Regions from separate parts of the Homo sapiens genome. Here region 1 is linked to region 2. Evidence: fine-mapped expression QTL. A gene starts in region 2. The other region holds a variant in brackets. All regions are shown on one strand. Distances are between the middles of the regions.

Region 1 (16,134 bases), 170 kb after region 2:
ACAGGAATTGAATGATCCTATGTAACCTCATAAGTGGGGCAACAGTATCAAGGAAACTCGTACATGGGGAAAGCTTTGTGAGTTTCTTGGCCTTTTCCTCATGGTCACAAGATGGCTGCTGCAGCCCCGGCACCACATCCTCACATACTTAAAGCAATGAGGCGGCCAGTGCAGTGAGAATTCTCTTTGAAGCCCATTCTTATTTTACCAGAGGAAAATTTATCCCCAGAAAGATCCTCAGCAGCCTTCTCCTCCATTTCATTGGCTAGAACTGTGTCTCTTGGCCACCACTAGCTCTAGGGGAAACTGGGAAGCAGGTATCTGTATTCCTTTCCTTTCCTTTTTGTGTTTTGACATAATTTCAAATTAAGAAAAGTTTCAATAATAACATAAACAGTTCTAGATATTCTTCACTCAAACTGCCAAAGTGTTGGCATCATGTGACGTTTGTTTAATCTTTTTCTCTCCCTACATACACACATGTGCATACATACACACGTATGTGTTTTTTTTTCTGAATGGTTTGAGTCAACTGCAGACACAATGTCCCTTTGTCCCTAAATACTCCATTGTGAATTCCTAAAAATGAGGATATTCTCTTACATAGCCATAGCACAATCATCAGGAAATTAACATGGAAACTTCTATTATCTAATCTACTAACCTTTTTCAGATCCTGCCCATTGTCTTAATAATGTCCTTTGGCCGGGCACGGTGGCTCACGCCTGTAATCCCAGCACTTTGGGAGGCCGAGGCGGGCGGATCACGAGGTCAGGAGATCGAGACCATCCTGGCTAACATGGTGAAACCCTGTCTTTACTAAAAATACAAAAAATTAGCAGGCGTGGTGGCGGGCGCCTGTAGTCCCAGCTACTCGGGAGGCTGAGGCAGGAGAATGGCGTGAACCCAGGAGGTGGAGCTTGCAGTGAGGCGAGACGGCGGCCCTGCACTGCAGCCTGGGCAACAGAGAGAGACTCCGTCTCAAAAAAAGAAAACAAAAAAAAGGTCCTTTATAGCAGAATAAAGGCCCAGATCACACAGTGCACTCTATTGAAACATCTCCTTATTCTCCGTGAATCAGAAGAACTTCCTGGGACTTTCTTTGCCTTCCATGACTTTGATGTTTTCGAGAGGACAGGCCAGTGACTTTGCAGCATGCTCTTCCCATTGGGTGGTCTGATGGCTCCTGATGTTTGGATTCAGTTATGAACTTTTGGCAGGACTGTGTGGAGGTGGTGCTGAGGCCTTCTTGGTAGGTCATATCAGAGGCCACACATCAGAGTCCCAATAATGGGACTAATGCTCATTAGTCCCATTATTGGGGATGTTAACTTTGGTTGCTTGGGTAAGGTGGGGCTTCCAGGCCTCGCCACTGTGAAGTTACTATTTAGGTATTGAATTTTTTACCTCGATTGTGGGAATGGCTGTTGGGTTGCCAGCTGCAGAGTCTGCTCTACTCTTGCTGATCTGAGTGTGGGACCTGTGGTTCCTCTATTATTGTTCATCTTGAGTGGCAGGGAAGAAGGTCTTCAGGAAGCAGCAGGTTCAATATTCTCTTTTTAGCTACACTTTCTAAGAACCTCCGGGTGTCAGTCTCCCAGACAAGGCCCCACAGAATATAGACAGTAATGGATAGCACTGTCTACCCTCAGTGAACTTCCTGCCCAACAGGAGGGAAGGAACAAGTATTTCTTGTTCACCTACTGCCTGCCAAGCGTCGCGTTAGCCACTCACATCCACCATCTCCTTCAAGTTAGTGTATCGGCTCTAGGAGTCCAGTGCTGTTACCTGGGTAATGATTTGCAGGGCTTTCTTCCTTTCAAACCAGAGGAACCATTCATAGCTTTCTCCAGTTCCTGGGTCTGCCTCACTTCACCTCACTTGAGTACAGCTTTTTTAAAAAAAGAATCTGAAAATTTTTTTTATATCAAGTGTTTCAAGGACCTAATTATGAACTTCATTATAAGTGTTCATTAGTTATACTTTGTTCAATTACTTCAACAAGTTGCCAAATGGAACACAAAGCTGGCAATTATCATTATGTAATTGTAATGAGACACTCAAACGGGGTTATAGAACGTTGTCTTTGCTGGCGTATTTTTCCTTCAGAGGAAGACAAACCAAAGGCAGCGGCTGGGCCTAGTTCTGCTCACTGACTCCTTCCAAGCTGTGCGGGGTGTAAAGAAGCCTCCTTTGATGTACAAAGGTCAAGTCTGGAAAAACGAAAACGTTTAAGTATGGTACTCAAAATGTTTTAGATGATGAGTATTATATCTCATAATATTATAAATATAAACATAAATATAAATATAAATATAAATTTACCGGACCTCGCTGTGATAGCTGCCGTCAGATTCATGTCAGGGGCTGAAGGCTTTTCTTCCCAGTTCTGCTTCCTCCACCTTTTATCTTTCACAGGAATCACCCCCAATATCCCTTGTCCTCCTGGCCTCCTCTCAGGGCCTGCTTTTCAGCAACCCAAGAACACTCCAGGGGCATTTTTCAAGAAGCTGGCCTTCTCAGAACCAAGGGTTCCAGCAAAACTCCCAGGCCTGACTCTCATTGGTGGAAATTAGGGTACCCAGCTTGTCCCAAACCCTCCCTGTGAATCTGATTGGCTAGGCTTGGGTCATGTGACCACTCATGGTCGGGAGCATCCCTTTTCAACAACATCCCTTTGTAGTTCACCAAAGGAGAGCTGCCTCCTCCTCTCAGCAGGGAAGGGAACGGCTGCTGTGCAGGCAGAAACTGTGGCTCCGCCTTGGCCCCCTTGGCAGGCTGTGAATGCAGAAGGCCTGGCTCTTAGCCAGCTTGTCACATCACCTTTTGGGACTCAGTGTCCGTGTCTAGAAAATGGGGGCACATGGCAAATGGATTCCTGCCCTGGTTCTTCATGGGGCCTTTGTGAGCAGCCTGGGAATAGCCTGCTGAGGCATGGCTCTGGGAGGGGACTCTGTCACAGCGCTCTTCCTGCTCTGGGTCTGACCAGGCTGGAGGAAGGACTTGCTAACTGTCCCAGCCATGGCCGTGTGTGTGTGTGTGTTGGGGGGTGGGTAGGGATGGGGATGGGGGGAGGTGAGAGGGAAAGGGGTTCACCTCCTTGCACTAGAACCTTCTGCCTTCCTCCAAAGGCCCCCGATTCAAGGCCAGCTTCCAATGAGGGAGGCGGAAACATGTGCTTCACAGAGGCTCCTCTGGAAACCATGGTGACAGCCCCAAATGTGATTTAGTGACACCCTTCTGTTGTCTTAGGTCACCCGCCAGAAATGCCAAGCTGAGGAAGGAGCAGGGGAAGCTGTTGAAGCAAATTGTGCATAATTAGGACTGTTGTCTCCTGCTATGGTCTGAAGATTCATATGTGGAAACCTAATCCCTACCTTGGGGATAGTAAGAGGTGGGGCCTTTGGGAGCTGACGAGGTCATGAGGGCCCCACTGTCATGATTGGGATTAGTGCCCTCATAAAGGAGGCCCAAGGGAGCTTGTTCACCCCTTCCAACAAGCGAAGATGATGCAAGAAGGGGCCACATGTGATGCAGAGGGTGGGCCCTCATGGAATCTGCTGGCACATTGACCTTGGACTGCCCAGCCTCCAGAACTGTGAGCGATAAATTTCTATTGCTTATAAACGACCCACTAAGGCATTTTGTTGTGGCGTCCTGAATAGACTAACACATCTCCCAAGGGAGAGTTCTTCCTTTAAACTTTTGTTTTTTTGGTTTTTTAAAAACAATATTTTAAAATTCAGTTTCTGTATAGTATTCCATTGTATGAATCTTGTGTAATTTATGCCCCTCCCTTATTAATGGACATTTGCGTTGTTCCTCATTCTTGTTCACCTTTGACACCTTAATAGGAGGGCCCCGCCTTCCTTTGCAAGGCTGGGCATGGTGGCTGGGAGAGAGGGAAGCACAGCCGTGGCTTTATCTGTCCCAGGAACTTTGTCCCAGGGTGCCCTGACACATCCCATCTCTCCTTGTCACGGGGTGTCCTCGACACTGTCTGTCTCTCTTACAGTCCTTGCTACTCAGTTTCTCTCCTTACAACTCTCTCTTGCTCACTCTCAATCTCTTTCGTTGTCTTTTTGTCTCTCTCTCCCCCTTTCCTCTGTTTCTCTTTCTCACTCTTCTCTGTCTCTCTCTGTCTATCTCTCTCTCCTCTTTGATTTCCCTTTTCTTTTTCTTTTCTTTTTTTTTTTTTTTTTTGAGACAGAGTCTTGCTCTGTCGCCCAGGTTGGAGTGCAGTGGCATGATCTCGGCTCACTGCAAGCTCCGCCTCCTGGGTTCACGCCATTCTCCTCCTGATTTCCCTTTTCTATAAGTCTCTCTCTGTTTTTCTATTGCTGTCTCTATTTCTCACTATCTCTTTGTCTTTTTCTCCCTTCCCCTCTTTCTATGTCTCTCCCTTTCTTTCCCTGTTTCTCTTTGTTTTTCTATTTCTCTCTCTCTGTCTCTCTATTTCTGTCTGTCTCTATTTCTCTCTGTGTCTGCTCTGTCTTTCTCTGTCTCTCCCTCCCTCCCTCTCTGTTGATCTCTGCTCACAGCTCTCCTAACAGCATCCATCTGGGCTCCATGCTGTTCGTGTGAGCCTCTTCCAGATGGTAGGATGGATTTGAGTTGATAGCGTGGTGTGCTAATGACACAGAGCTAATTCTTAATAATGGTGAAATGTGATAAAAAAAAGAAAACCCTCATCTGGGTCAGCTCAATACCTGGCCATAATGGCACTATCTGCAGCAGTCCTGGCCACTGTCACCTGAACAGATGTGATTGTACTAGGGCTGGGTAGACCTGCAGCCTTGTTCCCCTCCTGGTGTGGCTTCAGAGTTTGGAAAGTCAGGGTTATTCGAATCCAGGGCTGGAGAGCTGCAAAGACCAGAATCCCTCCCACAGAAGCTCGAGTCACAAGGGAGCTTATTGTAAGTGCCACAGCCACAGATCTGGGTTCACAGACACAGGTGTGCATCAAATGGGACCCATCAGTTGGGATACCTGGGTGTGAGCAACAAAGGCGGACTCCAGCTGACTCAAGTGGAAAAGGAATTGATTGAAACAACACCTGGAGAGCTCGCAGAGTTGTTGAGAAACTGCAAAAATAGACTCCAAAGAAGACGTGCAGACAAAGGGAAGCATGCCACGGAATTCGCCTGATGAGGCCGTCGCTACCACTGCTGCCGGGCAATGGGCGACAGAGCCAGAGAACATCAGAGCTGATCATCACCGCCGCCCTGCTGTCCCTGGATATTCGACATTGTTGCTGACACCGGAATAGCTTCTCCCTGTCTCTGCTTCTTCAGATCAATTGCTCCAGATTCCAAGTCTGGTTGGCCGAGCTCTGTCACAAGCTAATACCCTCATTGGAGGGGTGGCAAGGCATTAAGTGCGTGGATGCTGGAGCCAGACTGGGTTTGAATCCAGGCTCTGCCACATATCTGTGTGAGCCTGGACGCCATGCATGCCTCGGCTTGCTCATCTACAAAACGGGGATAGTGTAGTCATGCCTACCTCTGTGGGGGGAGGGGGCTATGTGAACTAAATAACAGAATATATGTGAAGCGTGTAGAAGAGGTGATGAGTAAGCATTTTAAATTTTAGCTATTACCATTATTATTATTATTATTATTATTATTTTGAGATGGAGTCTCGCTCTGTCGCCAGGCTGGAGTGCAGTGGCATGCTCTCGGCTCACTGCAACCTCCGCCTCCTGGGTTCAAGCGATTCTCCTGCCTCAGCCTCTGGAGTAGCTGGGACTATAGGCGGTGCCACCACGCCCAGCTAATTTTTGTATTTTTAGTAGAGACAGGGTTTCGCCATGTTGGCTAGGATGGTCTCGATCTCTTGACCTCGTGATCCGCCCGCCTTGGGCTCCCAAAGTGCTGGGATTACAGGCGTGAGCTACCGTGCCCGGCCTACCATTATTATTTTAAAATTATTTGGCATTTATTGTGCGAGGCAGCTGCTGTGTCTCATGAAGACTCAGACAGTGGGGGATTCTCCAAACGTACGGAGGGGGACACACAAGACAGGTGTCTACCGCAGCAATTCCCGTTCCTTTTTCTACCACTCAGATTTATTTCTATTTTGAGCCCTGATTCCTCCGTGATTTCAAAAAATCCCAGTCAATCTGGAGTCCTATACCTGTTCCCTAGTGTTGTATTTAAAAGATTAAATTGGAACGTCTTGAAGCAGAGCGTTCACTCTCCAGTTTACTGCAGTCTAGTCCACTCCCTATTGCCCTGCACCGGCCCCATTTCACTCACATACGGCAGTTAGCCTGATTCCCATGGACATTTCATTTTATGATTCCAGAACCTAAGAGCTAGGGTCTTTGAAAAACAAAAAGAAGAAGGCTGGGTGCGGTGGCTCACGCCTGTAATCCCAGCACTTTGCAGGGCCGAGGCGGGCAGATCATGAGGTCAGGAGATCGAGACCATCCTGGCTAACATGGTCAAACCCCGTCTCTACTAAAAATATAAAAAAAGCCGCGCATGGTGGCGGGTGCCTGTAGTCCCAGCTACTCGGGAGGCTGAGGCAGGAGAATGGCGTGAACCTGGGAGGCGGAGGTTGCAGTGAGCTGAGATCGTGCCACTTCACTCCAGCCTGGGCAACAGAGTGAGACTCCATCTCAAAAAAAAAAAAAAGAAAAGAAAAAAGAAAAAAGGAAGCTGAGCGTGGTGGCTCACACCTGTAATCCCAGCACTTTGGGGTGCCGAGGCGGGTGGATCATTTGAGGTCAGGAGTTCGAGACCAGCCTGGCCAACATGGTGAAAACCTGTCTCTACTAAAATACAAAAATTAACTGGGCGTGGTGGTACATGCCTGTAATCCCAGCTACCCAGGAGGCTGAGGCAGGAGAATTGCTTGAACCAGGGAGGTGGAGGTTGCAGTGAGCTGAGATCGCACCACTGCACTCCAGCCTGGGCAACACAGCAAAACTCTATTTCAAAAAAAAAAAAAAAAGAAAAAGAAAGAGAAACAGAAGGATGAAACTTAAAGGCTTTTGTATCTGCTTTTGTGAAAGTCACATCCCTGCCCTGAGCCAGTAATCACAGATCTATTATCTGCTAGACAGGGGGAAAGAATACAAAGCCCACATGATACCACCCAGCCTCATGAGGTTATCAGGGTCTCACACGGGGCCCCAGGGCAGGACACACAGCTTGGCCTCCTGGGAACTGGACAGTCAACAGTACCTGCTGTCTCTTTGCTGCTTTCTCTGGGGCTGCTGGTTTCTTGCCTCTCCTGTCGTCTGTGCCTCTGACTCTTTTCCTTCTCCTTGAGGTTAATTCTATGGGCCTGAACCCATTGCTCCACTCCCTTTGTTGTGAAATGAGTCCCCAAGCAATACTCTGGCGGGCTTCTCATCTGTTTCAGTCGCAGGGATCTTGGGACAGTTAGTCTTTGCCAAACCTCCTACAGGCCAGGGCTTGCTGACCACAGGCATGTCGTGCGGTCCTTTATGGCGGGTATGCTCGCACTGCGTCTGGAGGTTGGGCACTGCCTCTTGGCTTCTGCTCTTGGGAGCTCATATCAATGGTGGGCACACCCCCGATCCATCATACCTAGCCTATAAAGGAGAAAGCCACAGACCTTCTAAGGATGCAGGTGTTCCCCCCATGAATGTATTTCTCAGCTCCTTCATAGAGAAAGCATTTTCTGGGGTCTCCTGGGGGATGTAGTTGGTGGGTGGGTGTGCAGGTTGCCATGGTAAATCCTTTCAACACTCCAATCTCCCTAAGCCTTTGGACTCCCTCCTCCATAGCATGCCAGGGTAGCTCTGGCATCTCTGCTCACTAAACTTAGGCCACCATGGAGTCCTAGTTCCAGCCACCAACCAAGTAAGCTTTGAGAGCCACCTCCAGCTAAGGAAACTAACCCATGATATCCAAAATCTTAGTGCACCTCGGTCAGTGAGTTCAGTCTGCTCCTGTTCTTCTGCCTGCCTTGGTCTGACACCCTCACATACTCCTTAGGTTTCTGCCAATATATATTGGCAAAATCGTGCAGTTCTCTTGGTGTAAAAGCTATCTCATTTGAGGCCATAGTGGGTACTAAAAATCTAAGATTCTACTTATGAGTCTGGTGCCAACAGGTAGTAGTTGTGGTGGGTCTGAAGGAGAATGGGCATCTCCTCACGTGAGATTGTCATACAGTTTTCAAGAAAAGGACAGCTAGTCTCCTTAGACACAACAGAGCAAGCTCCTTCCTTTGGCAACAGAGGCTCAGAGTGACTTGTGGGTTCAAGATTCTCAGTTTCATCTGAGTCCCACCAGATGTCCCCATTCTAAGCTTCAGCATCCCTTTTAATGTCCTACCTTTTTTTTTTTTTTTTGAGATGGAGTCTTGCTCTATGGCCTAGATTAGAGTGCAATGGCATGATCTCGGCTCATTGCAACCTCTGCCTCCCAGGTTCAAGCGATTCTCCTGCCTCAGCCTCCCAAGTAGCTGGGATTACAGGCACCCACCACCACACCTGGCTAAATTTTGTATTTTTAGTAGAGATGGGGTTTCGCCATGTTGGCCAGGCTGGTCTCAAACTCCTGACCTCAGGTGATCCACCTGCCTTGGTCTCCCAAAGTGCTGGGTTTACAGGCCTGAGCCACTGCGCCTGGCCTTAATGTCCTACCTTTCACATGAGAAGTGTGGTGAGGCTGTGAATCCACCTAGTGTAATTCCATAACCCACACAATTCAATTGTGTTTTTTATTTTCAGTAGCACTAGCCCTGGCTAATGTAAATAAGCCAGGCTACAATAAATAAGAATTTTCACTGAGGGCATCGGGGAAGCTCTTTGGCCCTAGGACTGTGCTTTGATATGAGTTAAGGGACCTGAGATTCTATTTTATTTTCCTGTAGATGCTCCAGTGCACACAGAAGCATCCATCCCACACTGCAGCCCTTGAGGGCATCGTCACGGGCATCATGTCAAGTGCCTCAGCCACCTACCTTCCCAAGGCATGTGCTTCAGTCAGCACTTTGTCAGAATCAACCACAGGTGATGGTGTGGCTGATTCGCTGTGATGGCACTGCATGCTATGGGTCACTGGTGTCCCATTTCACATGGTCAAAATCCCAGCATGGCACTCAACTCCAAAGGCATGACGAGTCTCCAACTCCCACTCCTGGAGGTCTGT[A/G]TGTATCTAGAACCACTTTCTTAACTAGTTCTGTATCAGCCAGGGTCCAATCAGGAGACCCTGACTGATTCTACATTGGTAATTTGAACTGGGACAGTCCAATATATAGAATTATTGCTGGGCATGGTGGCTCACACATGTAATCCCAGCACTTTGGGAGGCCAAGGCGGGAGGATCACTTGAAGCCAGGAGTTTGAGACCAGCTTGGGTCTCTACAAAAAATAAAAAAACAGTTGGGCATGGTGATGCGTGCCTGTAGTCTCAGATACTTGGGAATCTGAGGTGGGAGAATCGCTTGAGCCTAGGAGACTGAGGATGCAGTTAGTTATGATAGCACCACTGCACTCCAGCCTGGGTGACAGAGCAAGACCCTGTCTCAAAAAAAAAAAAAAAAAAAAGACGACAGGGCTAGGTGTGGTGGCTCACACCTGTAATCCCAGCACTTTGGGAGGCCGAGGCAGGTGAATCACCTGAGGTCAGGAGTTTGAGACCAGCCTGGCCAGCATGGCAAAACCTCGTCTCTACTAAAAATACAAAAATTAGCTGGGCGTAGTGGCACCTGTCTGTAGTCCCAGCTACTGGGGAGGCTGAGGCAGGAGAATTGCTTGAACCTGGGAGGCGGAGATTGCAGCGAGCCGAGATAGCACCATTGCACTCCAGCCTGTGTGACAAAGAGAGACTGTCACACACACATACACACACACACACACACACACACAAAAGACAAGACAACAAAAAAAGAATTATTAACTAGTAAGATGTGCTTAACTTACTAATGGAGTCAAAGAGGACTCTAAGGGGTCTAGAAATATTAGGTATAAAAAAGTTACTACTGCCAGGTGTGGTGGCTCACACCTGCAATCCCAACACTTTGGGAGGCCGAGGCGGGTGGATCACAAGGTCAGGAGTTCGAGACCAGCCTGGCCAACATGGTGAAACCCCGTCTCTACTAAAAATATGAAAACTAGCTGAGTATGGTGGCACATGCCTGTAGTCCCAGCTACTCGGGGGGTTGAGGCAGGAGAATCGCTTGAACCTGGGAGGCAGAGGTTTCGGTGAGCCGAGATTGTACCACTGCGCTCTAGCCTGGGCAACAGAGGGAGACTCTGTCTCAAAAAAAAAAAAAAGTTATTACTCCCTCTAGACTGAGGGGAAATGGAAAGTGAAGAATATAGAACTATTCTAGTCCCTGAGACCAAGAACCAGCCCTCTCCGAAGAGAATGTAGCTACTACAAGAACATGCAGTTTGCTGGATGAGGACACTGTCAGACGACGAAGCCTGCAGCTAGTCCATATACACCATCTGCTATTGCCAGAGCATGTGAGTGGCCACAGCTGTTCTCTAAGAAATGCCCACCAGGTGGGGAGAGCATGGTTCAAGGGCAGAGTCAAAGGTGGTTGGTTGAAGCTGCTTGCTGGGTGGGGCGAGGATGGCCTGAGGGGATGGCTGGAGCTCCTGCAGAAGTGGCCACTGGGTGGGGACAGTGTAGCTGAGGGTCCCTCAAGGCTACTGTGGAAATGGCCACCAAGTGAGGAGAGCATGGCCTGAGAGGGTCACAGAAGCTGGCCTGAGAGCTGCTGGTAGAAGAGCTGCTTGCAGTAGGAGAGGAGGACAGGAACCCAGAGTGGATTGGCTCTCCTGCTGTATAGCTGCACAGTGTAACCCATGCCTTCTACGGACAAAGCCGAACATTCTACCAGCTGGCAAAGGAGAAATGTTTCCAGGGGTCAGCTCCAGGATCACCAAACATGGCAAAGAAGGATGGGTTTGGAGCCGAGTGACAATAAATTGACAAGTGGAACAGGAAGAAGGACCCAAGAGGCTGGGAGGAGAGGTTTGGGGAGAGTTTGGAGAAATTAGAGGAGGTATGGAGTGTGAAGGACATGGATCAGGGAGGGGAGGAGAATTTTAAGAAATATTTCTGTGGACCATGTGTTGCCTTTATAGCATTCAAGAAATGCAAATAAGGGGCCGGGCGCGGTGGCTCAGGCCTGTAATCCCAGCACTTTGGGAGGCCGAGGCGGGCGGATCACGAGGTCAGGAGATCGAGACCATCCTGGCTAACACAGTGAAACCCCGTCTCTACTAAAAATACAAAAAATTAGCCGGGCATGGTGGCAGGCGCCTTTGGTCCCAGCTACTCGGGAGGCTAAGGCAGGAGAATGGCGTGAACCCGGGAGGCGGAGGTTGCAGTGAGTCAAGATCGCACCACTGCACTCTAGCCTGGGCGACAGAGCAAGACCCCATCTCAAAAAAAAAAAAAAATGCAAATAAGGACCGTAAGTTACGTTGGAGTTCCCTTTTGGCTGAGGGACAGTGTTCATTGACCACAACACTACTTCGAGACTGGAATACTTGGGTCCTGGGTTTCTAAGTGGGTTATGACAGTTTTCTCTTAGCCTAAAGCAGAAATTTACAACGAAAGTTTTTCTTTTTAGGTTTATTAGAGCTGCCCCAGGGATCTTGTTTTATATTATGGGTTCTTGTCTCTCTGTAAGTTGCATTGGAAATTTGGAAGTCCAGGTTTTAGTATTTATTTATTTATTGAGACGAAATCTTGCTCTGCCACCCAGGCTGGGGTGCAGTGGCATGATATAGCTCACAGCAGCCTTAACCTCTTGGGCTCAAGTGATCCTTCTGCCTCAGCCTCATAGGTAGCTGGGACCACAAGCATGCACCATCATGCCCAGCTAATTTTTATATATTTTTTGTAAAGATGGGGTCTCACTATATTGTCCAGACTGGTCTTGAATTCCTGGGCTCAAGTTTTCCTCCCACCTTGGCCTCCCAAAGTGCCGGGATAACAGGCGTGAATGCCTGTGCCTGGCCCAGGTTTTAGTTCTGAGTTTCAAGTTTCATTGCATGGTGTGATGCTGGGGCAGGTCACTTAATCTCTCTGAATCTCAGATTTTTTGCCTAACGTGGGGGATATAAAGTCTGCCCATGCAAACTCTCAGGGGATATTGCCATGATGAGGTTGGATAATGGGTATGCAATTGCTTTGGGCAAAAGACAGTTTTCATTCACTTAAGCGAAGCTGTTTGTACCCATACAGTCAGCATATTAGCAAGAAATGTTTTTGCTTGCAAACACCAGGAAACCCCACCACTGTGGAGTAGTTAGGATTTATTTTTCTCATATACCAAGAATTCTAGAGGTGGTTATTTATGGGTAATGATAAAGCTGCTTAGTGACATAAGGACCAAAAATCTCTGTGATTCTCTTGCCCTTCTCCTCATGGTCACAAAATGATTGCTGTGACTCCAGCCATCAAGGCTACATTTAAGCAGGAAAAAGGGATAGGTCCTGGTCAGGCACCGCTGTTCTTTTTTTAGGTAGCCTTGCTGGCTGTCTGCCAGGGCTGCTTTTAGCTCCTAGAGGCCCCCTACGTGTCTTCTCATTGGGCTCCTCCATCTTCAGAGCCAGCAGCAGAGATCCCCAGATGATCTCCAGACTGTTTTATTTCATCTCACGGGACAGAAGTAGAACTGCAAGAGAGTCTGCGGCAGGGGGTATTTAGCTTTCCCACCCCTTCTAGAGCGAGGAGGCAAGGGAGAAAGAAAGAAGTTGGGAACGGGTGTTGGATTAGACAGCTGACAGTGTCGGGAATAGCTGGCAAGTTCTAGATGGCAGCAGCTGAGACTGTTGGGATGGCGGGGAAGCAGCCGCTGGAGGATTTTGACTCCCACCCTTGTAACTGCTGCTCCTGTGTATCTGAGCCCTTTCATGGGGCCTGGCTGCATCTGAATAGCGAACATTTCACTTCGGAGGTGGAATTATATTAAAAATCAGATGCTTGTCATTATGCAAATGGATGTCTCACTATTGCTTAGGATTTTCATTTTTCTATGAATTATTCCTTTTTTCAGTGCTTTTTTTATTCCCCATGGAAGAAATAAAAACAACCACTGGCTGATCAAAGGAATTTTCCAGTCATTCAGTCAACAGATATTTCCTGAGTGTCTGTGCTGGGCCAGGAACTGTTCTAGTCTCAGGGAAATAGTGATGAAAAGACAGTTTCTGCAGCAGTAGAGCTTGTATTCCAGGGGAGGAAATAAGCCATCAAGTGAATTAATAAATCAAATAACTTAGGAGAATGACACATGCTATAAAGACAGTAAAACATGGTAGATCACTAGCTTCATGGGTGGGAGGTCTTCTTTAAATGGGGTGGTCAGACAAGGTCTCAGAGGAGGCAGTATTTCAGGAGAAGCCTTAAAGGTGAGAGGAAGCTAGCCATGCAGCGATCTGGGGGAAGGGTGTTCTGGGCAGAGGGAACAGCGAGTGCAAAGGCCCTGATGTGGGAACAGCATAGTATGTTTGGGGAAGAGAAGGATATCCAGGAGGCTCCAGCACAAAGAGAGAGGACAGAACAACAGGAGATGAGGTTGGAGATGGGTGGGGCAAATGACACAGGGCTTTGGAGAGGCGATTGGGTTAAAGATTCTGTCTGCTGGGGCTGGTTTGTTGGCTTGGGCCATTGAAACTTAACCCATTGGCCAGGCATGGTGGCTCATACCTGTAATCCCAGCACTTTGGGAGGCTGAGGTGGGCAGATCACTTGAACCCAGGAGTTCCAGACCAGCCCGGGCAAGATGGCAAAACCCTGTCTCTGCAAAAAATAAAAAAAATTAGGGGGGAGTGGTGACATACACCTATAGTCCCAGCTACTTGGGAGTTTGAGGTGGAAGGATCACGTGAGCCTGGAGTTCAAGGCTGCAGGGAGCTATGATCACGCCACTGCACTCCAGCCTGGGTGACAGAGCAAGACCCTAAAAGGAAAAAGAAACAGCCTGTTAGGCCATTGTCCTGGCATTACCTCCCTCTCACATTATCTTGTGAATTATTGTGTCCATTGTGTATTTCTTGCCCATTGTCCATTTTCCTAATTTGAATGTAAGCTCCATGTAGAAGGAGTCTTGTCTGTCTTGCTCATGGCTATGTCTCCAGCACCTAACACGGCCTGGCATATAGTAGGTGCTCAAAGATATTTAATGAATATGTATTTGTTTTCTGTTGCTATGTAACAAGTTACTCCAAACTTAGCAGCTGAAAACAAAACCCACTTATGAGTTCCCAGTTCTGTAGATAGGGAGTCCAGGCATGGCATTGGCAGGGTGTTCTGCTCAGGGTCTCACGAGGCTGTAATTAAGGGGTTGGCTGGGCTGTGTCCTCATCTGGAGCTTGGGACCCTCTGCTAAGCTCGTGTAGTTGTGTCATGTGGGGGTTGAGTTTCTGTGGTGGTCATACTGGGGTCCCCATTTCCTTGCTGGCTGTCTGCCAGGGCTGCTTTTAGCTCCTACAGGCCCCCACATGTCTCCTCCTTGGCCTCCCCCATCTTCAAAGCCAGCAGCAGAGAATCTCCCTCAATTTGAATCTCTCACACCTCAAATTGCTGACTTCAGAAAGAGTCCAGTCTCTTTTAAGGGGTCACTCAGGCTAATTTCCCTTTCTCAGGGTCAACTGCACCCTATGACAACCTAATTACAGGTGTAAAATTCATCATATTCACAGCCCCCTGGGGATTAGACAGGGCAGGAATCTTAGGGGCTGCCCTAGAACTCTGCCTACGGAAGAAAGTAGGAATGAATCAGTGCTCATTCTTCTTCCCCATGAGAGCCATTTCCATACCCCAGCCAGCCCAACCACACCTGCTTGTTGGTGGCTACAACTTTTGTCTTACGGTTGCTGGGAGCGCTCTTCTTCTGGCCATGGGTCTTCAGTTGTGCCTCTGTAATGGGTGCATGGTCCCACCTTAGGGCTTTTGCACTTTCTGCTCCCACTGCCCGAGAGCCTCTCCCTGTAGACCCCTGAGTGGCCCCTTCTCTCACTCTCTGCATTTGCTCAAATGTCATCTTTGCAGACTCCCTTCCCTGCTTAAAATCATCCCCTTCCACTCTAAAAATACTCTTTGCCTGTTTGACTTTGCAGTTGTTTTCACCCACCCTGCTCCGTAGTTTACTTATTTATTTGGTTATGGTCTGTCTCCCTGCACTAGGCTGGCGGCTTCACAAGCACAGGGAATTTTGTGTGTGAGATCCGCTGTCACATCCCCAGTGCCTGTGATAGTGCCTGGCTCACAGTCAGGGCGTAATAAGTTTCTGTCCAGGGAATGAATGAATGAGGTTTAAGGAGAACAGTTTTAACTTTCTTTATCTGATTTTTCTTTTTTCTTTTGGAAAAACCTGAGCAGGCACAAGTCTCCCTTCCCCAGGCAGCCTCGTTATATAATCAGGGCCCTGTTCTGCAAGGAGCTGTCAGCGCTGCTTCAAGCAGTTATATTTAGTGTTTACAGCCTCTCCTTTTAGCTGCATGAGATCTCCCGAAGAGCTCTGGAAATTAGGCCTTGCTTCAATAGGGAGAGGGGGCTCCTGGCCCAGTCCAAGGGGGCCCCAGGGGCTGGTGGGCACTCGGTGGTGGCAGTAGCCAAGCAGCCCTGACCTCAGGGTCAGCCCGTGGCCAGTGTCAGGTTCAGAGCATCCACATCTAGGGATGGAAGGTGAGTTTGTCCTGTAAATCACAAAGATAGGAGAAAACAAGGATGGGAGTAGAAAGACTGCTTGGCGTTCAAATCTTGGTTCTGACACTTGTTAGCTGTGTGATCTTAGTCCAGTTACTTGACCTGTCTGGGCCTCACCTTCCTCATTTGCAGAATGGGGATAGATCCAGCATATCTTGATTTGGTGAAATCATTCACGGGCAGTGTCTTGCACAGGATAGGGGCTGCACCAATCAGTTATTTTTAGTTGTGTTCTGAGAGGCCCCTTGCTTGGTTCTGAAGAAGGAACAGGTACATCTGAGATGCCCCTGGTGGTGACTGGATGGCAGACCCACGTCCCTGGGGGTGACTGATGGCAGACCCACACCCCTGGGGGTGACCAGATGGTAGACTCATGCCCTTGGGGGTGACTGATGGCAGACCCACGCCCCAGGTGGGTGACTGGGTGGCAGACCCACGCCCCAGGGTGTGACTGACGGCAGACCCATACCCCAGAGGGTGA
Region 2 (16,134 bases):
TGGAGGTTGCAGTGAGCCGAGATCTTGCCACTGCACTCCAGCCTGGGCGACAGGGTGAGACTCCATCTCAAAAAAAAGAAAACCCCCCAAAAAATACTATGATTTTCTCTTTTTGTTTTTTTGAGACGGTGTCTCACTTTGTCCCCCAGACTAGAGTGCAGTGGCGCAATCTCAGCTCACTTCAACCTCCGCCTCCCAGGTTCCAGCAATTCTCCCGCCTCAGCCTCCCAAGTAGCTGGGATTACAGGCATGTACCACCACGCCCCAGCTAATTTTTGTATTTTTAGTAGAGACGGGGTTTTACCATCTTAGCCAGGCGGTCTCGAACTCCTGACCCCCAAGTGAGCCACCCGCCTCAGCCTCCCAAAGTGTTGGGATTACAGGCGTGAGCCACTGCACCCAGCCTGATGTTCTCCTAAGAGTGTACGGTGGGGCCGGGCGCGGTGGCGCACGCCTGCAATCCCAGCACTTTGGGAAAATCACCTGAGGCCAGGAGTTGGGGACCAGCCTGGCCAACATGGCAAAATCCCGTCTCTACAAAAAATACAAAAACTAGCCAGGTGTGATGGCATGCACCTATAATCCCAGCTACACAGGAGGCTGAGGCACGAGAACTGCTTGAACCCGGGAGGTGGAGGTTGCAGTGAGCAGAGATCACGCCACTGCACTCCAGCCTAGGCGACAGAGCAAGGCTCCATCTCAAATAAATAAATAAATAAAAGAAGGTAATCTGAGTCATGTTCTTATGAGATTCCTCTGGCCCCTGAGAAAGGCAGGGATACATGGAAATGTCCTGTTCTGATGTGAGAAACAACTTTCCCCAAATCTCTGGGTCTGAGAGACCTCAGCCCCTCTGCTCAGGTGGTCCAGTTCCAAGTGTCAGCCCAGTGTCTACGGCTGTCTTTGAGGTGCCATCCTGAATTGTCACTGCCATCATAACGGTTGTCACCTGTCCTGGGACACACCCCACCTCTGTAACCTTTCTTTACTTTTCAAAGCAACATATTTTCCCAAATTACCATCTCCAAAACTCTGATAGGAGGTAAGACGGCTACTACAGGTTAAATATCCCTTTCCAGAAATGCTAGGAACCAGACCTGTTTTAGCTTTAGGAACATCTGTATTCTATTCACTGGTTGAGCATCCCTAATCTAAAAATTTGAAATCTGGAATGCTCCAATGAGCATTTCCTTAAGTGTCATGTTGACACTCAAAAACTTTTGAATTTTGGAGTATTTTGGATTAAGGCTGCTCAACGTGTGCTACTGGTCCCATTCTGCAGATGTGAAAACGAAGGCACAGAGATGTTAGGGGATCTGCCTCAACTCCCAGCCTGTCTGTGGAACTTTTTTTTTTTTTTTTTTTTTTTTGAGATGGAGTCTCGCTCTCTCACCCAGGCTAGAGTACAGTGGTGCGATCTTGGCTCACTGCAACCTCCGTATCCTGGGTTCAAGCCATTCTCCTGCCTCAGCCTCCCAAGTAGCTGGGACTACAGGTGCCCACCACCACGCCTCCTCTGCTCTAAATGCTCCCATGGCTGCCCTCTCCCGTAGAGAAAAAGCCCCAGTCCTCGCCAAGACTGCAGTCCAGGCCCGACCTGCCCTGGCCCCCTGTTTTTTCTCTCATCTCCAGGCAGCCACTCAGGTCTCCTTCAGATCTTGACTCTAACAGAGTGATGTCTTCTCCAGCAACTCTATGGGATGCTGCAACCCACCCAATGGCCTCTTCTGTTTTATCTGCTCACTATAGCCGCATAAATTTCTATATGTTTATTCTTTGCCTGTCTCCTCCTATACAGCAGGTAAACTCAGGGATTTTCTAAAAATCTCCCTTTCTGCTATGTCTCCAGTGCCTAGAATAGTGCCTGGCATGTAATAAGGGCTACTCCTAAAAAGGGGTCTGAGAGAAATGTCAGCCAGCCTGGAGCTGAGCAGACAAGACTGGGCTGAAAATACACATTTGGGGGTCGCTGGAGATTATAAAGAGATTATAATCGAAGTCATGGGAAGGGATGGAACTACTCCTGTTTTTTTTGCCAAATTCTCCATGTTACTATTTGAGGGCGAGAGAAATCCCGGGTATTCCATATACACTGTTAAAACTAGGCTGTCACTAAGCCCCTCTCCTTTGGATCATCTGGAATGGGGGGACCCATTCCCCCATTCCAGATGATCCATCCCACCCCTCTGGGATCCCCACCCGAGAGTCCTGAAGGCAGGGCACAGGCCGCCCTGGGAAATCTCCGAAATCCAGCCCCGGTCCGGGGATGTCTTACCCTCCAGTTCCAGCTGCACGGGGGGCGGCTCGGGGGGGCCCTTCGAGGGTCCGGGGCCCGCCTGCTGGCGCCCCTTGATGTTGTAGCGCCGGCGCAGCTTCCCCATGGCGACTAGGCCAGGGTGGGCGCTCCAGCGGCCGGACCAGCAGAGCAATCCGAAACCCAGCCCACGTGGGTTCCCAGACCACCAACTCCGGCCGTGAGACTTCCGGGTTGTGTTATCGCGAGAACTGTAACTGACTTTGCCGCTGAGGGGCGGGGTTGCAAGAGAAACCCAGCGAAGAGGAGAGGCGGAGCCGGGCCGGGCAGGGGGCGGGACTATTTAGAGAAGTAGGCGGGGCCTGAGGTCCCAGCGGAGGCCGGAGTTTAAGTCCTGGGCTGTTCTCGCTTGGGGTAGTCTGGGTTTAAATATGAATTATATCTACTGATACTAATTTGGCTTCTTGGGAGTGGAAGTGTTTTGCCACCTTTTAAAATATACCCCGCCCCCAGTACTCCAAACTTCTTCCCCCCAACCCTGGTTTGCGCATCTGTATTTTCTGATATTCCTACAAGAAACGTATTAGTCGTGTACTTTTAAAAAGGCACCAAATATTTCCATCACAGGGATAGATGGAAGATCTAAAAGGAGGCCTCTACGGGCGCGGTGGCTCACGCCTGTAATCCCAGCACTTTTGGAGGCCGAGGCGGGCGGATCACGAGGTCAGGATTTCAAGACCAGCCTGGCCAAGATGGTGAAACCCCCGTCTCTACCAAAAATACAAAAAAAATTTAGCTAGGCCTGGTGGCAGGCGTCTGTAATCCCAGCTACTTGGGAGGCTGAGGCAGAGAATTGATTGAACCCGGGAGGTGGACGTTGCAGTGAGCCGAGACTGCACCACTGCACTTCAGCCTGGGCAACAGAGCTAGACTCTGTCTCAAAAAAAAAAAAATAAAGTTGTCTATTACATAACTTTAAATTCCCATTACCGCATCACATTGTAACACACTGGGAAACAATGCATTATTATTATTATTGAGACAAGGTCTGGCTTTGTTGCCCAGGCTGGAGTGTAGTGGAGCAATCTCGGCTCACTGCAACCTCTGCCTCCCGGGTTTAAACGATTCTCCTGCCTCAGCCTTCCGAGTAGCTGGGACTACAGGTGCCCGCCACCACCCCCAGCTAGTTTTTGTATTTTAGTAGAGACGGAGTTTCACCATGTTGGCCAGGCTGGTCTCAAACTCCTGACCTCGTGATCTGCCTGCCTGGGCCTCCCAAAGTGCTGGGATTACAGGCATGAGCCACCGCGCCCGACTTTTTTTTTTTTTTTTTTAAGAGATGAGATCTCGCCCTGTGGGCCAGGCCAGAGTGCAGTGGTGCAATCACCACTCGCTGCAGCCTTGACCTGTCCTCCCACCTCAGCCTCCTGAGTAGTTATGACTACAGGCACACACCACCACGACGGGCTAATTTTTCTATTTTTTTGTAGAGATGGTGTCTCCCTATGTTGCTTAGACTGGTCTCAAAATTCTGGGCTCAAGGGATCCGTTTGTCTCGGCCTCCCAAAGTGCCGGAATTACAGGCATAAGCCACTGTGAAGGCCTTAATGAATGACGTTTAAAAAAATCATAATTAGCGTATCAAATCTATGGGGTTTTTTGTTTGTTTGCTTGTTTTTGTTTTTTTGAGACAGAACTCTCCCTCTGACGCCCAGGCTGGAGTGTAGTGGAGCAGTCTCGGCTCACTGCAACCTCCACCTCTCGGGTTCAAGCGATTCTCCTGTCTCAGCCTTCCAAGTAGCTGGGATTACAGGCACCCACCAAGATGCCCATCTAATTTTTGTATTTTTAGTAGAGATGGGGTCTCACCATGTTGGCCAGGATGGTCTCAAACTCCTGACATCAAGTGATCGGCCCACCTTGGCCTCTCAAAATGATGAGATTACGGGCCTGAGCCACTGCACCCAGGCTCAAATCTGTGTTTTTATGGATTTTGTTGCTCAGGATGATAGTGATCTAAAGTTTCTTCTTTAAATATGTTTATTTAAATAAATTAAAAGTTTAAGAAACGTTTAAAAAATGTTAAGTAGGTAGTAGTACACTTGCCTATATTTCCTTCTAAAATATAATATATCAGTGAATTACCTTCCAGAAGGTATAGACCATTCTAGACAGCAAGAAGAAGGCAGATACATAACAGCATGGATGGATCTCACAAATATAAAGTTGAACAAAAGCTGGGCGTGGTGGCTCACGCCTGTAATTCCAGCACTTTGGGAGGCCAAGGCAGGCGGATCACCTGAGGTCAGGAGTTTGAGACCAGCCTGGCCAACATGGCGAAACCTGTCTCCACTAAAAATACAAACATTAGCCGGGTGTGGTGGCGCGTGCCTATAGTCCCAGCTACACGGAAGGCTGAGGCAGGAGAATCGCTTGAACCCCGGAGGCGGAGGTTGCAGTGAGCCGAGATCATGCCACTGCACTCCAGCCTGGGCAACAGAGCAAGACTCCGTCTCAAAAAATAAAAAATAAATAAAAAAAAAAGTTGAACAAAAGAAGCCAACCCCCAGAGTACTGTGTGGTTCATTTACATAAACTTCAAACACAGGCAAATGAATCCCCTAAATTTTAAGAGGAACATAGTGAATGGGAGGGGACAAAGGGAGGCTTCGTGGGGGAACTGGTAATGTTTCGTTTCTTGATTTGGGTGCTGGTTACCTTGGGTATTCAGTTTGTGAAAATTCATAAAAATTTATATGATTGTGTATTTTTCTGTATGTTATACCTTAATTAAAAAGTTTATTATTATTATTATTATTATCATTTTTTATAGAGATAGGTTTCACTATGTTGGCCAGGCTGGCCTCGAACTCCTGTGTTCAAGCAATCCTCCTGCCTTGGCCTCCCAAAACAAGCTTGTGCCACTACACCTGGCGTAAAAAAAGGTTTTTGTTTTGTTTTGTTTTGTTTTTGGGACGGAGTTTCACTCTTGTTGCCCAGGCTGGAGTGCAGTGGCTTAGTCTCGGCTCACTGCAACCTCCGCCTCCCAGGTTTAGGCGGTTGTCCTGCCTCAGCCTCCCGAGTAGCTGGGATCACAAGCAGGCACCACCATAACTGGCTCATTTTGGATTTTTTTTTTTTTTTTTTTTTTTTTTTGAGACGGAGTCTCGCTCTGTCGCCCAGGCTGGAGTGCAGTGGCACGATCTCGGCTCACTGCAACTTCCGCCTCCCGGGTTCACGCCATTCTTCTGCCTCAGGCTCTGAGTAGCTGGGACTACGGCGCCCGCCGCCACGCCCGGCTATTGTATTTTTAGTAGAGACGGGGTTTCACTGTGTTAGCCAGGATGGTCTCGATCTCCTGACCTCGTGATCCGCCCGCCTCGGCCTCCCAAATTGCTGACCTTGTGATCCGCCCGCCTCGGCCTCCCAAAGTGCTGGGATTACAGGCGTGAGCCACGGCGCCTGGCCTCATTTTGTATTTTTAGTAGAGACGGAGGGATTTCTCCATGTTGGTCAAGCTGGTCTCGAACTCCCGACCTCAGGTCACCCGCCTCAGCCTCCCAAAGTGCTGGAATCACAGGCGTTAACCACCGCACCCGACCTACAAAAAAGTTTTTAAAAAGATAAACAATACAGGAAAAAATGTGCAAAGGATATGAATAGGTAATTCACAGAGAAGTAATTCAAATGGCCAATAAATCTATGAAAATCTTACTAGGAATCCAGAAAATGTAAATTCAAAAATAAGAGCATTTTGTATTCTTTGGATTGGCAAAAATTGAGTTTTATTTTCTTGGTTGTCTAAAAAAAATGTTGGTTAGACTTGATTTGTTTGATTTAGGATGCAAACAGGGTCCTTGCATTGCATGGGTTATTATGGCTCTTAAGTCTTTAAAACCAATTATCCTCCTCTTCGCTCACCTTTTATACCAATTATTTATTGAACAAACTGGGTCGTTTGTTTGGTAGAATGCCCCACATGCTGGAGTTGGTTGGTTGCTTCTGCTGCTTCTAAGTTTTCCTTATCTGCCATATTTCCTGTAAACTGTAGGTTTGATCTAGAGGCCCCATCAGGTTCATGCTCAACTTGTCTTGGCAAGAATCCATCGCAGGTGGCGCTGGTACTTCCTGGCACTAAGATCGATTGGCGGGACCGGGACTTCGCGGCTTAGCCCCTCCATTTTCAAGTTCCCCGCCAAACCCTCCCCTCTTGGTTGTACCCATTTCTGATGATCATCGCGTGAATCCATCATTCTATTGAGGGGTGCCAAATAATTTTCGGATTCTCTCATTCATCCTCATGTATTAGCTGGACTTTGTAAAAGAAAGTCCCTCCCCAACTATTTTGGGGCTCTGAAATACAGTTCATTCAGGAAGGGCAGGAGGATGCCTGATGCTTTCTTGTTATTTAAAATTTTCAGGATGAATGAGCTGATGCCCACGAGGGCGAATTTTGGGGTACCATTATAATACATTCAGGGAGATTACATATATGTCTATTTCATGTTTTTCAATCAGTTGCAGTCACTTTCCTGGTTGAAGCTGTTGCAAGTTTTACAGGCACGGGTTGCTTTTCCACGGATAAGTTAAAAAAGAGAATTTTTTTTTAAATGATGAGAAGCCGCACCGGGTCGGGGCAGGCTTCCGGGAGGCGGGCGCGGGGCCCCGGGGCCGGGTCGCGTTGGTCCCGCGCCGGGGGCGGGGCGCGGCGTGGGCTGGGCCGTGCGCCTTTGCGCGCGGGGCGGGGCAGGTGGCGCAGCAGCGGCGGCGGCGGCTGTGGGTAAAGGCGCGGCGCGCGGCCCCCGAGCGCGCCAACCTTGCCCTAGCCGGAGCCCGCTGCGGCCCAGCGCACGGCCCTCACCCCGCATCGCGACCCCGCGCCCCGCCGGCCGAGCATGGGCGCGCGCGCCTCAGGCGGGCCCCTGGCCCGGGCCGGGCTCCTGCTGCTGCTGCTGCTGCTGCTGCTGCTCGGGCTGCTGGCCCCGGGCGCGCAGGGGGCGCGGGGCCGCGGCGGCGCGGAGAAGAACAGCTACCGCCGCACGGTCAACACCTTCTCCCAGAGCGTCAGCAGCCTGTTCGGCGAGGACAACGTGCGCGCCGCTCAGAAGGTGGGCGCCGGGCCCGCGCCCGCGGTCACCTTGCCCCGGTCGCCACGCACCTGGCTACCGGGGCCGACCTGGGAGGAGCGCGGCCTCCGGGGCTGCCCGCCCGGCCAGCGCGCGGGAAGAGGGGGTCCGGCCTGCGCCTCGGGGCCTGCCGCCTGCGGCCCCCGCCGGGCCTGACCAGTGCGGGTCTGGGCGGCCGGGCCTCGGGGCGCCCTCTCCTCTGCGCCGCGCTTCTCCTTGGACCTTGCCTCCGCGGTCGGCGCAGCCAGAGTCTCTCCCGGCTGCGCTGACGCCTGCCGCGCGTCTCATTCATTCATTCACCGCGTTTGAATGGCTCCTACTGTGAGCCAGGCAGCACACTGGCGCTCTCGGTCCCCACGCGGCTGCGCCCTCCCCAGCTACCCCGGGTTTGTCCTAGCCTCGCATCCCGACCCACTTCCCCTGGGACCTTCTGCCCCACTCCTCCTCCTGCTTTGAAGATACTTGGAGTTGTTTTTACTTTACAGGAAAAGAAGGGAGCAATGCGATTTGCTCGGTGGCTTTGGGAAACCGAGCACCTACTGTGTGCGGGGCCTTTCGCGTGGAGCCTTTTGTTTAGTTTGGGGAGGTCCCGGATCCTGCAGCCTCCTGGGAAGGGTGTTGAGTCCCAGGAGGATCGCAGGGGGTTTTCCCCAATTCCTGCTCTCTGGAGCTAGGTGCGATAGGGGTGCCATTCCGGGCCGAAGTCCGCCGACTAGCTCTTGAGAAGGAGGAAGTTACTGGGGACAGTTGTGTGTGGTATTGCGGTTCCTTTGCTGTTCCCTGGGGAGGAGGGGGCTCTTGCTTGCCGCCAGCCTTCCTGGGGTTTTGGAGTCAGAGAAGTTTGGGTTCAAGTTGGAGCTCTACCAGTTGGATGACTTTGGGGAAGTGACTTCACTTCTTTGAGCTTGTTTCTTTATTTGTTAAATGGGGATAGTAATCATTCCCCTTCATTGCGAGGTTGTAATTATGACTAGTTGGTACCTTCCTGGCCCAGAATCATGGCTAAAAAGTTAAAGTTTTCTGCTCATTGAGAGGGAGTGGGGAATAGAAGGGAATATGAAGGCCGAAATCAGATTGACTGCATGTTCTTACTGGATAACATGAAAGGTTAATTTGTTAGGAAAACAGTAAGTTTTGACCTCCCTCTCCTGTGGGCAGGGGCACCTCTTGCACAGGTGGGTCTGTGTCTTCATACATGTAGGGGAGAGAACGCTTTGTAGGTGGCCAAAGAGGGGCAAGGAAGCAGGGCTGAACGCCTGAATGTGAAAAGGTTGCCCTGGAGTCTGGCGCGGGAAAGGATCAGGGGTGTGAGTGCAGGGAGTCTCACTTACTTCCTCTTGATGCCGTTTCGGAGCTATTTGAAGGCAGAAATCATTTGTTTTAGAGCAAAAATAAGCCTGTCTTTTTCACGCAGGGTGACCACAGGATCCCCATGTCTCAACTGACGGTGGTTCCATGTGACAATCTAAGGCCAACAAACATGAAATACGAGTGGTTATTTAAGACTTTTACTTAAATAAGACAATCTGTATTCTGGCAGAGCATCTCCGAATCTGGGGGTCAGAGCTCTTCCTGGGCTAAACCGGGGTTTGTGCCTTTAATAGAGATACTAATGATTACTAAGTGCTTTTGTAGATAGAATAATCTTATGTAATCCTTAGAATGACCCTGTGCAGTAGGTACTGTTACTGTTCCCATTTGACAGATGAGGAAACTGAGACACAGAGCAGTGAAGTGGCTGGTTTCAGGTCAGATGAGTGGCAGAGCCAGGATGTGAACCTAGGCAGAGTGGACATGGAGCCCACATTAGTATCTCTCGCCTGTTTTCCTGCTTCATGACCCCTTCCCTGTTCCCCGAGTCAGTACAGCATCCAGAGGCTGACCTGACTTCTTTCCTTTTTGTTTTTTTGAGACGGAGGTCTGGCTCTGTTGCTCAGGCTGGAGTGCAGTGGAGTGATCTCGTCTCACTACAACCTCCACCTCCCAGGTTCAAGCGATCTTCCCCACTCACCCTCCCAAGTAGTTGGGATTACAGGTGTCCACCAGCATGCCTGGCTAAGTTTTGTATTTTTAGTAGAAAAGAGGTTTCACCATGTTGACCAGTCTGGTCTCAAACTCCTGACCTCAAGTGATCCTCCCGCCTCGGCCTTCCAAAGTGCTGGGATTACAGGTGTGAGCCATTGCACCTGGCCTGACTTATTTTATTTCCTGCTGAGTGTAGCCCACACTGGCCAGGCTTGGGGATATTGTTTTGTTAATTTTATGGGTTTTTTTTTAAATTTAATTAATTAATTTATTTTTTGAGACAGACTCTTACTCTGTCACCCAGGCTGGAGTGCGTTGGCACGATCTTGGCTCACGGCAACGTCTGCCTCCTGGGCAAGCAATTCTCCTGCCTCAGCCTCCTGAGTAGCCGGGATTACAAGTGAGTAGCCGGGATTACAAGTGAGCACCACCACATCCGGCTAATTTTTTATGTTTTTGGTAGAGATGAGGTTTCATCATGTTGGCCAGGCTGGTCTCAAACTCCTGACCTCAAGTGATCTGCCGACCTCAGCCTTCCAAAAGTGCTGGGATTACAGGCGTAAGCCACCGTGCCCAGCCTGTTTTGTGAATTTTAAATAAAGGAAAACTGGGTCTGCCAGCAACTGTAGTTTTCAGCATGCCTGGGTTTACGAATTAGAGCCAAACCTGCTTTGTGAAGTTTAATGGTATTTAAAAAAACACCCCATAGTCTTTTTTTTTTTTTTTTTCCGAGATGGAGTATTGCTTTGTCGCCCAGGCTGGAATGCAGTGGTTCAGTCTTGGCTCATGGCAACCTCTGCCGCCCAGGTTCAAACAATTCTCCTGCCTCAGCCCCCTGAGTAGCTGGGATTACAGGCGTGTGTGCCACCATGCCTGGCTAATTTTTGTATTTTTAGTAGAGATGGGGTTTCACCATGTTGGCCAGGCTGGTTTCGAACTCCTGACCTCGTAATCCGCCCTCCTCAGCCTCCCAAAGTGCTATGATTAGAGGCTTGAGCCACCGTGCCCGGCCTCCCATATTCTAATCTAGGACTTGTCTGAAATACACCTATGACCATCCTGTTTGGAGCATGGGAACAGACATGAGTTTGAATCCTAGCTGTTTCTCACTCGCTCTGTGACCCTGAGCCAGTTGCTTTACTTCTCTTTTTTTTTTGCTTTACTTCTCTTTTTTTTTTTTTTTTTTTGAGATGCAGTCTCGCTTCTTCTCCCAGGCTGGAGTGCAATGGCGAGCTCTCGGCTTACTGCAACCTCCGCCTCCCGGATTCACGAAATTCTCCTGCTTCAGCCTCCCTAGTAGCTGGGGTTACAGGCAGATGCCACCACGACCAGCTAATTTTTGTATTTTTAGTAGAGACAGGGTTTCACTGTGTTGGCCAGGCTGGTCTCGATCTCATGACTTCAGGTGATCTGCCTGCCTCGGCCTCCCAAAGTGCCGGATTTACAGACGTGAACCACCGTGCACCACCCAGTTGCTTTACTTATCTGTGTCCCATTTGTTCAGAGGAGATAAATTGGGGAATTAAAGGAGATTGGTTGGGCTGCACAATGCCAGGGACTGAATAAGCATTTAGTAAATGGTAGAATATTTCTATATGAAGGGAATTTGTCTGGTAGGAGGTAATAGACTTGTTAATTCCTTTAAAAATTATTAAGTGATGCCCTGGCATGGTGGCTCACACCTGTAATCCCAGCACTTAGGGAGGCCAAGGTGGGCAGCTCATCTGAAGTCAGGAGCTCGAGACCAGCCTGGTCAACATGGCGAAACCCTGTCTCTACTAAAAATACAAAAATTAGGCCAGGTGTGGTGGCTCACGCCTGTAATCCTAGCACTTTGGGAGGCCAAGGTGGATGGATCACCTGAGGTCAGGAGTTCAAGACCAGCCTGACCAACATGGTGAAACCCTGTCTCTACCAAATACAAAAAATTAGCCAGGCGTGGTGATGCATGCCTGTAATCCCAGCTACTTGGGAGCCTGAGGCAGGAGAATCGCTTGAACCCGGGAGGCGGCCGTTGCAGTGAGCCAAGATTGCACCGTTGCGCGCGCCAGCCTGGGCAACGAGTGAAACTCCGTCTCAAAAAAAAAAAAAAAAAATTAGCTGGGCGTGGTGGTGCACGACTGTAATCCCAGCTACTTGGGAGGCTGAGGCAGGAGAATAGATTGAGCCCGGGAGGCTGACGTTGCGGTGAGGTTGAGTCGCCCCACTGCACTCAAGCCGGGGGAACAGAGACTCCGTCTCAAAAAAAATTATTAAGCAACTTATACACATGTGTTCATAGCAACACTTTTTACAATAGCTAAAAAGTGGAAATGTCCCAAATGTCTTATCAGCTGATGAAGGGATAAAATGTGATGTGTCTGTATAATGAAATATGATTCAGCCATAAAAAGGAATGAAGTATTGCTATATGCTACAACTTGGACGAACCTTGAATAAATGAGAGAAGCCAGTCACGAAAGGGCACACATTATATGATTCCATTTACAGCATATGAAATATCTGGAATAGGAAGATCCGTAGAGACAGAAAGCAGATGGGTGGTTGCCAGGGGCTGGGGGAGGGAGCAATGGGGGAATTACTGCTTAATTGATCTAGGGTTTCCTTTTGGGGTGATGACAGATTGTGGAACTAGATAATAATGGTTGCATGATATTGTGAACGTGCTCATGCCACTGAATTGTACACTTTAAAATGGTTAAAATGGCCAACTTTATGTGTATATGACTACAGTTTTTTAAAAAAATTGGCCTGGTGCAGTGGCTCACATCTGTAATCCCACCACTTTGGGAGGCCTAGGTGGGAGGATTGCTTGAGCCCAGGAGTTTGAGACCAGCCTGGGCAACATAGTGAGACCCCATCTCTACGAAAAACCAAAACCTTTGGCTAGGCATGGTGGCGCACACCTGTGGTCCCAGCTACTTGGGAGGTTGCATAGGGAGGATCGCTTGATCCTGGGAGGTTGAGACTACAGTGAGCTGTGATCACACCACTGTACTCCAGCCTCAGGGACAGCACAAAACTCTTTGTCTCCAAAAAAAACAAACAAATGAAAAATTTCAAGCACCTACTGTATGTGGAGAAAATGATTCCTCTCAGGCAGAATATAGCTGGACTGATGTGGTGGAAACATCCTGAATGCCAGGTCGAGAAACTAGTACTTTTTTCCCTTGCTCCTTGGTCGTAGTTGCATGGAATACAATTTCATGTAGTTCTGAAGGTTAAGAAACTAACTCCACTTCCCACTACCGACCCGTCTACCACCCCCTTCCCCGAAGCAGCCAGATATTCTGAACATGTATAAATATATGGATCTATAGATCTGCTCCCTATTGTTGGTTTTTGTTTATTTTGCACTATGCGCACTGTTTTGTATTTTTATTTTATTTTTCCCTGAAACAGAGTCTCCCTCTGTCGCCCAGGCTGGAGTGCAGTAGCTCAATCTTGGCTCACTGCAGTCTCTACCTCCCGGGCTCAAATGATCCTCCTGCATCAGCCTCTCAAGTAGCTGGGATTACAGGTCTGCACCGCCATGCCCTGCTAAGTTTTTTATTTTTTATTTTTATTTATTTATTTATTTATTTTTCTTGAGACGGAGTCTCCCTCTGTCGCCCAGGCTGGAGTGCAGTGGCGCAATTTCGGCTCACTGCAAGCTCCACCTCCTGGGTTCATGCCATTCTTCTGCTTCAGCCTCCCAAGTGGCTGGGACTACAGGCGCCTGCCACCATGCCCAGCTAATTTTTTTGTGTGTTTTTAGTAGAGACGGGGTTTCACTGTGTTCGCCAGGATGGTCTCGATTTCCTGACCTCGTGATCCGCCCGCCTCGGCCTCCCAAAGTGCTGGGATTACAGGTGTGAGACACCCGACCCAGCCTCATTAAACTTTTTGGCTTTATTATGTATGAGACAGATGGTCTTTTCATTTATTCAGAATCCATCGATATGTTCTGGGAACTGCCTTTTGGTTTTTCTTTTTTTTTTTTTTTTTTGCCGTTCTATTGAGCTGTTGGGTTCTTTTGTTTTTGCTTTTTTTTTTTTTTTGTAAAGAGGTTTGCATTTTTTGCTGTTTGCAAGAAAGTATTTTGAGCAAAATAACTTTGACACTTTCCAGTCCTTTTTCCCCTACCAACATTTTAACAGCTTTTTTGAGGTGTAATTGCACTACACCTCAATAGACTGTGCGTATTTAAAGTGTACAGGTTGACACCTTTTGACATACACACTTGTGAAAAATTACCACAGTTAAGATAAAGTTTCATATGATTTTTTTTTTTTTTTTTTTTTTTGAGAGGGAGTCTCGCTCTGCCACCCAGGCTGGAGTGCAGTGGCGCAATCTCGGCTCACTGCAAGCTCTGCCTCCCGGGTTCACACCTTTCCCCTGCCTCAGCCTCCCGAGTAGCTGGGACTACAGACGCCCACCACCACGCCCGGCTAATTTTTTGTATTTTTAGTAGAGACGGGGTTTCACCATGTTAGCCAGGATGGTCTCGATCTCCTGACCTCATGATTGCCTGCCTCGGCCTCCCAAAGTGCTGGGATTACAGGCGTGAGCCACCACGCCCAGCCTGTTTCCTATAATTTTTTATGTTGATAATTTTTCAAAGTACTAAAATGCTGAAAGAACAGAACAAGGAATAGCTGCAAACATCTCCCCTAAAGTCACCAGTTCTTACATTTCCCCTCAAACTTTTTTCTCTGCAAACACATCCGATAGACACATACACACATGCACACACATTTATTTTTATTTTTTGGCAGGATCATTTGAAAGTTAGTTGCAGACGTCTTAATACTTTTTCCTACAGAACCACAATACCATTGTCTCAGCCAAGAAACTTAAATATAGTACAGTATTTTGTAACAGATAGTCCATATTCAAATTGTCTTTATAGCTCATAAAAAATCCAACACCCAGTCAAGGACTGCTCATGCATTTAGTGTTCATGTCTCTAGTCTGTCAGAGTTTCCTCACTTTTGGTGGAGGAAGGGACTTAATTATGAATTTTTTTTTATTTTTATTTTTTTTTGAGACGGAGTCTTGCTCTGTCACCCAGGCTGGAGTGCAGTGGCGCGATCTCGGCCCACTGCAAGCTCCACCTCCTGTGTTCACGCCATTCTCCTGCCTCAGCCTCCCAAATAGCTGGGACCAAGGGTGCCCGCCATCACGCCCGGCTAATTTTTTTTGTATTTTTAGTAGAGATGGGGTTTCACCGTGTTAGCCAGGATAGTCTGGATCTCCTGACCTCGTGATCTGCCCGGCTCGGCCTCCCAAAGTGCTGGGATTACAGGCATGAGCCACCGCACCCGGCCCCAATTATGCATTTTTTTCTTTTAGACAAGCTCTCACTCTGTAGCCCAGAATGGAGTGCAGTGGCGCAGTCTCGGCTCGGTGCAACCTCTGCCTCCTGGGTTCAAGCGATCCTCCCACCTTAACCTCCTGAGTAGCTGGGCTTACAAGCATGTGCCACCATGCCTATTTATTTATTTATTGTATTTTTCGTAGAGACAGGATTTCTCCTCGAAATCCCTGTGTTGCCCAGGCTGGTCTCTTGACTCCTGGGCTCATGCGATCCTCCCGCCTTGGCCTCCCAAAGTGCTGGGATTATAGGCGTGAGCCACTTCGCCTGGCCCAGTAAGGGACTTTTACAGCATTGACATTTCTGAAGATCACAGACTAAATGTCTTTTTTTTTTTTGAGCTATAATTCATATACCATACAGTTTATTCATTGAAAGCTCAGCGGTTTGTAGTATATTCACAGTGCTGTACAGCTGTCACTACAGTCAGTTTTAGAACATTTGCATTACCCCAAAAAGAAACTCTGTACCCATTAGCAGTCACTACTTTTTTCCTTTGCCCCAACTCCCAGCCTTAAGCAACTGCCAATCTGCTTTCTGTCTCTATTTCTGAGCCTACTGTGGGCTTTTCATAGGAGTGGAGTCCTGTACAGTCTGGCCTTTTGTGTCTGGCTTCTTTCACTTAGCCTCATGTTTTCAAGGTTCATCCATACTGCAGGATCAATACTTTATTCCTCTTTATGGCTTTTTATTTACCTGATCATCAACTGATGCACATTTCGGTTTATGTCACTTTTTGTCTATTGTGAATGGATGCTGCTGTGAATATCCATGTGCAAATATTTGTGTGGGCATTGTTTCCAGTATTTTGCGGTGCATACCTAGGAGTCCAGTTGCTGGGTCATACAGGAACTTTTTGTTTAACACTTTGGGGAACCGTCACCCTTTTCCAAGGCAGATGTACCGTTTTACCTGCCTACCAGCATGTGGGGCCTGGTTTCCCCACATCCTTGTCAGCACTTGCTATGGTCTACCTTTTTAATTCTAGCCATCTTGGCAGACGTGAAGTAGTATTGCTGTGGTTTTGACAGTCCAGAACTGGTTTTTTTTTTTGTTTTGTTTTTTTTTTTTTTGAGACAGAGTCTCGCTCTGTTGCCAGGCTGGAGTGCAGTGGCACAATCTCTGCTCACTGCAACCTCCGCCTCCGGGGTTCACGCCATTCTCCTGCCTCAGCCTCCCGAGTAGCTGGGACTACAGGCACCCGCCACCACGCCCAGCTAATTTTTTGTATTTTTAGTACAGACAGAGTTTCACTGTGTTAGCCAGGATGGTCTCGATCTCCTGACCTCGTGATCCACTCACCTTGGCCTCCCAAAGTGCTGGGATTACAGGCGTGAGCCACCACACCTGGCCCAGAACTGTCTTTTGAAATG

What was found. PIP is the estimated chance that this variant, and not a neighbour inherited with it, causes the effect.
Region 1: its variant is fine-mapped to the expression of BRI3BP in whole blood (INTERVAL, PIP above 0.99).

The regions. Positions count from the first base shown.
Region 1 is chr12:125,157,261-125,173,394 of GRCh38, forward strand. LOC105370053 (a long non-coding RNA gene) reads left to right here. Exons shown (of 3, transcript XR_945492.3): 3 at 3,253-3,759. Among named protein-coding and RNA genes, the nearest start is that of TMEM132B, 21 kb to the right of the region's middle. RefSeq lists an enhancer at 2,334-2,834. The variant A/G (reference allele first, on the strand shown) is at 9,132.
Region 2 is chr12:124,986,642-125,002,775 of GRCh38, forward strand. It overlaps BRI3BP (BRI3 binding protein), which reads left to right and starts at 7,004. Exons shown (of 3, transcript NM_080626.6): 1 at 7,004-7,362. The coding sequence starts at 7,150. It overlaps DHX37 (DEAH-box helicase 37), which reads right to left and starts at 2,490. Exons shown (of 27, transcript NM_032656.4): 1 at 2,276-2,490. The coding sequence starts at 2,381. RefSeq lists enhancers at 410-953, 5,574-6,074, 7,794-7,883, 9,064-9,203 and silencers at 6,834-7,153, 7,174-7,223, 7,324-7,373, 7,384-7,633, 7,644-7,703 and 1 more.